Linked DNA regions of Homo sapiens. The protein of the gene in region 1 purifies or fractionates together with the protein of each later gene. This does not show direct contact. Each region holds a gene or a part of one and is shown in the gene's direction. Other genes may lie near its edges.

Region 1 (2,409 bases):
TCAGGGCCCATGTGGCTTCCCTTAGGGCTCATGTACATGCTGCTGAAGCACCTGGTAGACAGGTACAATCTCTACTACGCCTACCTGCCGGCCAAGCTGGACAAGAAGATCCACTCGGGGGCTGTGAACCAGGTGGTGGCCGCGCCCATCCTCTGCCTCTTCTGGCTGCTCTTCTTTTCCACCATGCGCACGGGTGAGGGATCCCTACCCAGGGAACGGGGGGTGGCGAGCAGAGTGGATTCCAGCCAGAGCAGGCCACAGGAGAAGCCGCATGGCTGGGGGTGGCAGGCAAGGGGCCTGGGAGAGGCTGGGGCCAGTCTGTAGCACCTGGGAGAGTGAGGACTGCATTCAGAGGGTATCAGAAGCTGGGGTGGGGAGGCCCACAGGAGATAGCAACCCCATTCTTTGCCCCCCAACACCAGGGTTCCTAGCTCCCACGTCTATGTTCACATTTGTGGTCCTGGTCATCACCATCGTCATCTGTCTCTGCCACGTCTGCTTTGGACACTTCAAATACCTCAGTGCCCACAACTACAAGGTGTGGGGCAAGGGTGGCAGGCGGATGGCTGCGGGCAGGAGCTCAAGGGGAGGAATGCAGAGGGCCACAGGGCTGGCGAGGGCTGAGGGCAGCGCCAACAGGGCCAAGCGGGCGTGGGGTCATGATCAGGGCTGAGGACATGCCCCCACTTCCTGACTCATTCTGGGCCCCTCAAGATTGAGCACACGGAGACAGATACTGTGGACCCCAGAAGCAATGGACGGCCCCCCACTGCTGCTGCTGTCCCCAAATCTGCGGTGAGTGCCCTCAAGGGTTGGGAGGGGCCTCTGACAGACTCAGCCTCAAAGCCCAGTGTTCCCTTAGTCCTGCAGAAAGGGGAACCTGTGCCAGACCCCATGGGGGCGGGAAGAGAGCTGGTCTCCCTGGAGGGCTGCCCCCGCCCCCCAGGGCCCTGCCCACTCTGCTGTCCTACATGCCCTGGTGTTCCCGCAATCCATGAGGGGCAGCTGTTCACCTTGCCCCCATTTCCTCTCCTCCTTCAGAAATACATCGCTCAGGTGCTGCAGGACTCAGAGGTGGACGGGGATGGGGATGGGGCTCCTGGGAGCTCAGGGGATGAGCCCCCATCATCCTCATCCCAAGATGAGGAGTTGCTGATGCCACCCGACGCCCTCACGGACACAGACTTCCAGTCTTGCGAGGACAGCCTCATAGAGAATGAGATTCACCAGTAAGGGGAGGGAGGGGCCCTGGAGGCCACATCCTGCCCCACCCCACCCCCACTCCCACGGACACTAAAACGCTAATAATTTATTAGATCTAAAGCCCCTTCCTCCCCAGCCCCTGCTTTCATTAAGGTATTTAAACTTGGGGGTTTCACTGCTCTCCCCCATGATGGAGGGAGGGAGCCCCCCAACCTCAGTGAGGAGAGCCCCGAGCCGGCCCCGGGGCAAAGAGGGGTGCAGAGGGAGTTCCCCCAGATCAGTACCCCCCACCCCTCCCCAGCTAGTAGCATGACCAGGAGAGGGTTAATGAGAGCCAAGAGGAGTACCTGGTGCACCTGGTGCCGGTGGCTGGAGACCTGGGGGGCAGGTGGATCTGGGGCTGTTCCCCCCCCTCCGTTTTTTCCACCCCACAGTTCCTCCTGGGATCTGGCCCTCCAGGGAAGTGGAGCCTCCAGCCCCTAGGGGATGCATGAGGGGGGAGGGGGTGCTGAGTGGGAGGAAGAGTCAGGCTCACAGCTGGGGTGGCCTGGGGGTGGGGGTGGGCAAGGCTGACACTGGAAAATGGGTTTTTGCACTGTTTTTTTTTTGGTTTTTTTGTTCTTTTTTGTTTTTTTCCTTTAAAATAAAAACAAAGAAAAGCTCTGAGGCAGGTGTCTGACTTGTGCTGCCCTGGGCACCTGGGCCGGGTCCCCACCCTCCTATCTGGAGGGCCTCTTTGAGGTCCCTGCATGACGCTGGGCAAGGGACTTGTTCAGAGTCTCATTTCTGTGTCACTGAGAGGAGAGAGTGGGGCTGGGGAGAGACTTAAGGGATATCTCAGAGGCAGGAAGGGCCCCTGTGCCCAGGTGGCCACCATACCAGCCTCGCCCACTCTGATCATTCCCCTGAGTCCCTGAGCAACACACATGGGACAGAGATTCAGGGAGAAAAGGTCGTGCAAAGCCACAGGGTCCATGCTGGGCCAGGACGAAGGCCCTTCTGAGCACCTCAAAGTAAGCCTGGCGCCAGCCCATCTGTCCCTTCCCCAGGAGGGCCTGATCTCCTCAATGAGAAGCCCCCTCCCACCCTCCAGTCAAATCTTACCCATTCTCCAAGACCCAGCTCAAATTCACCTTCTCGCCAGGCGCGGTGGCTCACGCCTGTAATCCCAGTACTTTGGGAGGCCAAGGTGGGTGGATCACTTGA
Region 2 (3,676 bases), on another chromosome or scaffold:
TTTGAGTGATATGTACAATAATGTGGTATGCATGGGGGATAAAGCTGTGAGCAAGACACATTTAATCCATATCCTCAAGGACCTTTGGTCTGGCCATCTAGTTCTGTAGTTGGGAGACTTTTCCTGTAAAGGACCAGACAGTGAATATTTTAGGCTTTGCAGGCCCTATGGTCTTGGTTGCAAATACTGAATTCTGCCATTGTGATGCAAAAGTAGCCACAGACATTATTTAAATAAATGAGTGTGGCTATGTTCCAATAAAACTTCATTTACAGAAATAGGCAGTGGACTTGATTTGGCCTGCAGGTTGTAGTTTGCCGACTCTTGGTCTAGTTTATTTGTTTCTTGGCCTCTGTCTCTCTTTCTTGCTCATATTCACAGCAGCAATTTTCATAGAGTTCCATTGATTTATTTGTTACAGTTATGTAGGTAAGATTGTGGAAGAACTGGATCTTTTACAACTGATAAAAGCTAACTCTTGTATTTTCTTTTACTCTTTTATCCAGGACATTTTATTTCCTTACATCGAAGAAAATGTTAAAGAGTATCTGCAGACACATTGGGAAGAAGAGGAGTGCCAGCAGGATGTCAGTCTTTTGAGGAAACAGGTTGGGACATTTCTGTCTTAAATTCCCAAGTGTCTTAGAAATGAGGGTACCTGGAGATTTAGGACATGCTCTGAGCATTTTGTAAAATAAGTGCCCTGGTTTGATAGGGGATAGAAGTTGCAGTGACTTAGTGAGTTGCCTGCTTAGGAATTCACAGTACATAATTAAAGGCTGGATCATGTCAGTTTGTTGTTTCTGGAGTTGCTCTTTGGTTGTTTTTTTTTGTTTTGTTTTGTTTTGTTTTTTTTGTTTTTTTTTGAGATGGAGTCTCACTTCGTTGCCCAGGCTGGAGTGTGGTGGTGTGATCTTAGCTCACTGCAACCTCGCTTACTGGGTTCAGGCGATTCTCCTGCCTCAGCCTCCCGAGTAGCTGGGACTACAGGCACCTGCCACCATGCCCAGCTAATTTTTTGTATTTTTAGTGGAGATTGGGTTTCACCGCATTGGACAGGCTGGTCTAGAACTCCTGATTTCAAGTGATCTACCCTCCTCGGCCTCCCAAAGTGCTGGGATTACAGGCATGAGCTTACCACCCCCAGCCCACCCAAAAAGGGCTTAAGTTTGCAAATATATGATATTGTTAGGCAATTTAAATAGCTCTAGAAAAAGGCAACTCTAGGCTGGGCACGGTGGCTCACACCTGTAATCTCAGCACTTTGGGAGGCCGAGGTGGGTGGATCACTCGAGGTCAGGAGTTTGAGACCAGCCTGGCCAAAATGGTGAAACGCTGCCTCTACTAAAAATACAAAAAATTAGGCCGGGCGCGGTGGCTCACGCCTGTAATCCCAGCACTTTGGGAGGCCGAGGCGGGCGGATCACGAGGTCAGGAGATCGAGACCATCTCGGCTAAAACGGTGAAACCCCGTCTCTACTAAAAATACAAAAAATTAGCCGGGCGTAGTGGCCGGCGCCTGTAGTCCCAGCTACTTGGGAGGCTGAGGCAGGAGAATGGCGTGAACCCGGGAGGCGGAGCTTGCAGTGAGCCGAGATCCCGCCACTGCACTCCAGCCTGGGCGACAGAGCGAGACTCCGTCTCAAAAAAAAAAAAAAAAAAAAAAAATACAAAAAATTAGCCGGACATGGTGGCGGGCACCTGTAGTCACAACTCCTTGGGAGGCTGAGGCAGGAGAATTGCTTGAACGTGGGAGGTGAAGGTTGTAGTGAGCCGAGATGGCGCCACTGCACTCTAGCCTGGGCTACAGAGCAAGACTCCGTCTCAAAAAAAAAGAGTCCTTTCTGGGTAGAATGCAAAAGGTTTTGAGCAGTCTCTACATTTTTTATTAACGTCTCTATATTAGTCTGTTCTCACATTGCTGTAAAGAAATACCTGAGAGTGGGTAATTTTTAAGAAAAGAGGTTTAATTGGCTCACAGGTCTACAGGCTATACAGGAAACATAGCGGCATCTGCTTCTGGGGAGACCTCAGGAAGCTTCTAATCATGATGGAAGGCAAAGCCGGAGCAGGCGTCTCAGATGGTGAAAGTCAGGAGCAAGAGAGTGGGGAGGGGAGGTGCTACACACTTTAAAACAACCAGAACTCACTATTGTGAGGACAGCATCAAGGAGGATGGTGCTAAACAAACCATTCACGAGAAGTCTATCCCCGCGATCCAGTCACCTCCCACTAGGCCTCACCTCCAGCACTGAGGATTACATTTCAATGTGCAATTTGGGTGGGGACACACATCCAAGCCATGTCATTCTCCATATGACAGTACTTCATCATTTTGCACTCCCTCCTTCCTTACTGCAAGCCCCTGCTGCCCCCTCTGCAGTGCTCCTGGGTCCTCACACTCACACTCCCCTTCCAGACTCCTCACCCCAGCTCACTCTGGCCCAGCCCTCATACCTCCTTTGGTCTCCTGTGCTTTGTTCTACCCTCTTCTCCCCACCAGTCATCAGTCTGTCTTTTCCTTCCACATTGTGTGCTATGGAACTCCTGCTCTGTTGTTTTTCTTGTTAAAATTGCTTCAGTGGCAAAGATCTTACATGGTCTGCAGAGCTAACTCACTGGCAGTTATTTTCTAGTTCTATATTGGATACTGTGGAATGCTCTCTGTGGATGTTTTACTGTTAGGAATTAGGATTCAAAATGTAGTTATGTCCTTTGGGCATGGAATATTTGGGATTTTAATTTTCTGGATAACTCAGGGTTAATCTGAAATACAGTGAGTCCTTACTTAATGTTGTCTTTAGGTTCTTGGAAACTAAGTGAAATGACACTTAAATTTCAATTTTCAATTTTAAACCAACCATAACAAAACCAATTTTTTCTCCACATAAATGTTATAACAAAATGATGTTGAAGGAAATGACATTACTTGAGAAGGTCATGCCACTTGAAGTCACAGTTTCCAAGAACCTTTCAATGATGTTAAATGAGGACTTACTTTACTTTCCTCCCTTACCTTTTTTTGTTGTCAAAACCTTGTTGAAACATACATACATAGTCCCCCATTATTGTATATAAATATGTACACATGTATCTTTAGAAATTGGACTGCTTTGTCACAAGGTCATTGTTCTAAGTGGCTACTAGGATTTTTGCAAGATGTGGGAGATTATAGGAGACTGAATGTGAACCAACCTCATTACTTCACTAGCTTCTTTTTGCTGAATTCCAGGCATAAACTAATTTATGAGATTTTCTTTGTTTCTTTCTCCATTAGTTATAGTGCAGAGAAAATTATCAGATTGAGTTAAAGTCCTGGTTTGTTGATCCCAGTAGTGAATCAACAAATCAAATCTTAATTCTATCATTATGTGCTCTCTCTTCTCATATACAACATGCGTCTCAGTTTAAATTTCAGCTTTTAGCAAAAGGAAAGGTAATGTAAATTTATTAATCCAGGTTCTTTTAGGAATCATTTGTATCAGCTCCAAAGTATATGATGTTTCAATTTGCAGCCATACTAGGGCTAATGATGGAGAAAGTTGTTCTGCTGGGTTTTTGGGTCTCGTTTTAAATGACTGTTTTTTGAATAAGCAAAAAACAAACATCATGTTGTTTCTGACTTAAAGGCTGAAGAGGACGCCCACCTGGATGGGGCTGTTCCTATCCCTGCAGC

What was found. The genes of interacting proteins can lie anywhere in the genome.
Region 2: the proteins of TMEM63B (region 1) and ENOPH1 purify together in Homo sapiens (affinity purification with mass spectrometry; one large-scale study listed by BioGRID and IntAct). This does not show direct contact.

What each region holds. Positions count from the first base shown.
Region 1 is NC_000006.12:44,153,651-44,156,059, forward strand, and holds the end of TMEM63B (mechanosensitive cation channel TMEM63B), read left to right. Parts: intron 1-25; coding exon 26-193; exon of another isoform or gene 194-327; intron 328-422; coding exon 423-538; intron 539-714; coding exon 715-795; intron 796-1,041; coding exon 1,042-1,233; 3' UTR 1,234-1,869; downstream 1,870-2,409. UniProt on the Homo sapiens protein: Mechanosensitive cation channel with low conductance and high activation threshold. Osmosensitive cation channel preferentially activated by hypotonic stress.
Region 2 is NC_000004.12:82,447,414-82,451,089, forward strand, and holds part of ENOPH1 (enolase-phosphatase E1), read left to right. Parts: intron 1-506; coding exon 507-608; intron 609-3,629; coding exon 3,630-3,676. UniProt on the Homo sapiens protein: Bifunctional enzyme that catalyzes the enolization of 2,3-diketo-5-methylthiopentyl-1-phosphate (DK-MTP-1-P) into the intermediate 2-hydroxy-3-keto-5-methylthiopentenyl-1-phosphate (HK-MTPenyl-1-P), which is then dephosphorylated to form the acireductone 1,2-dihydroxy-3-keto-5-methylthiopentene (DHK-MTPene).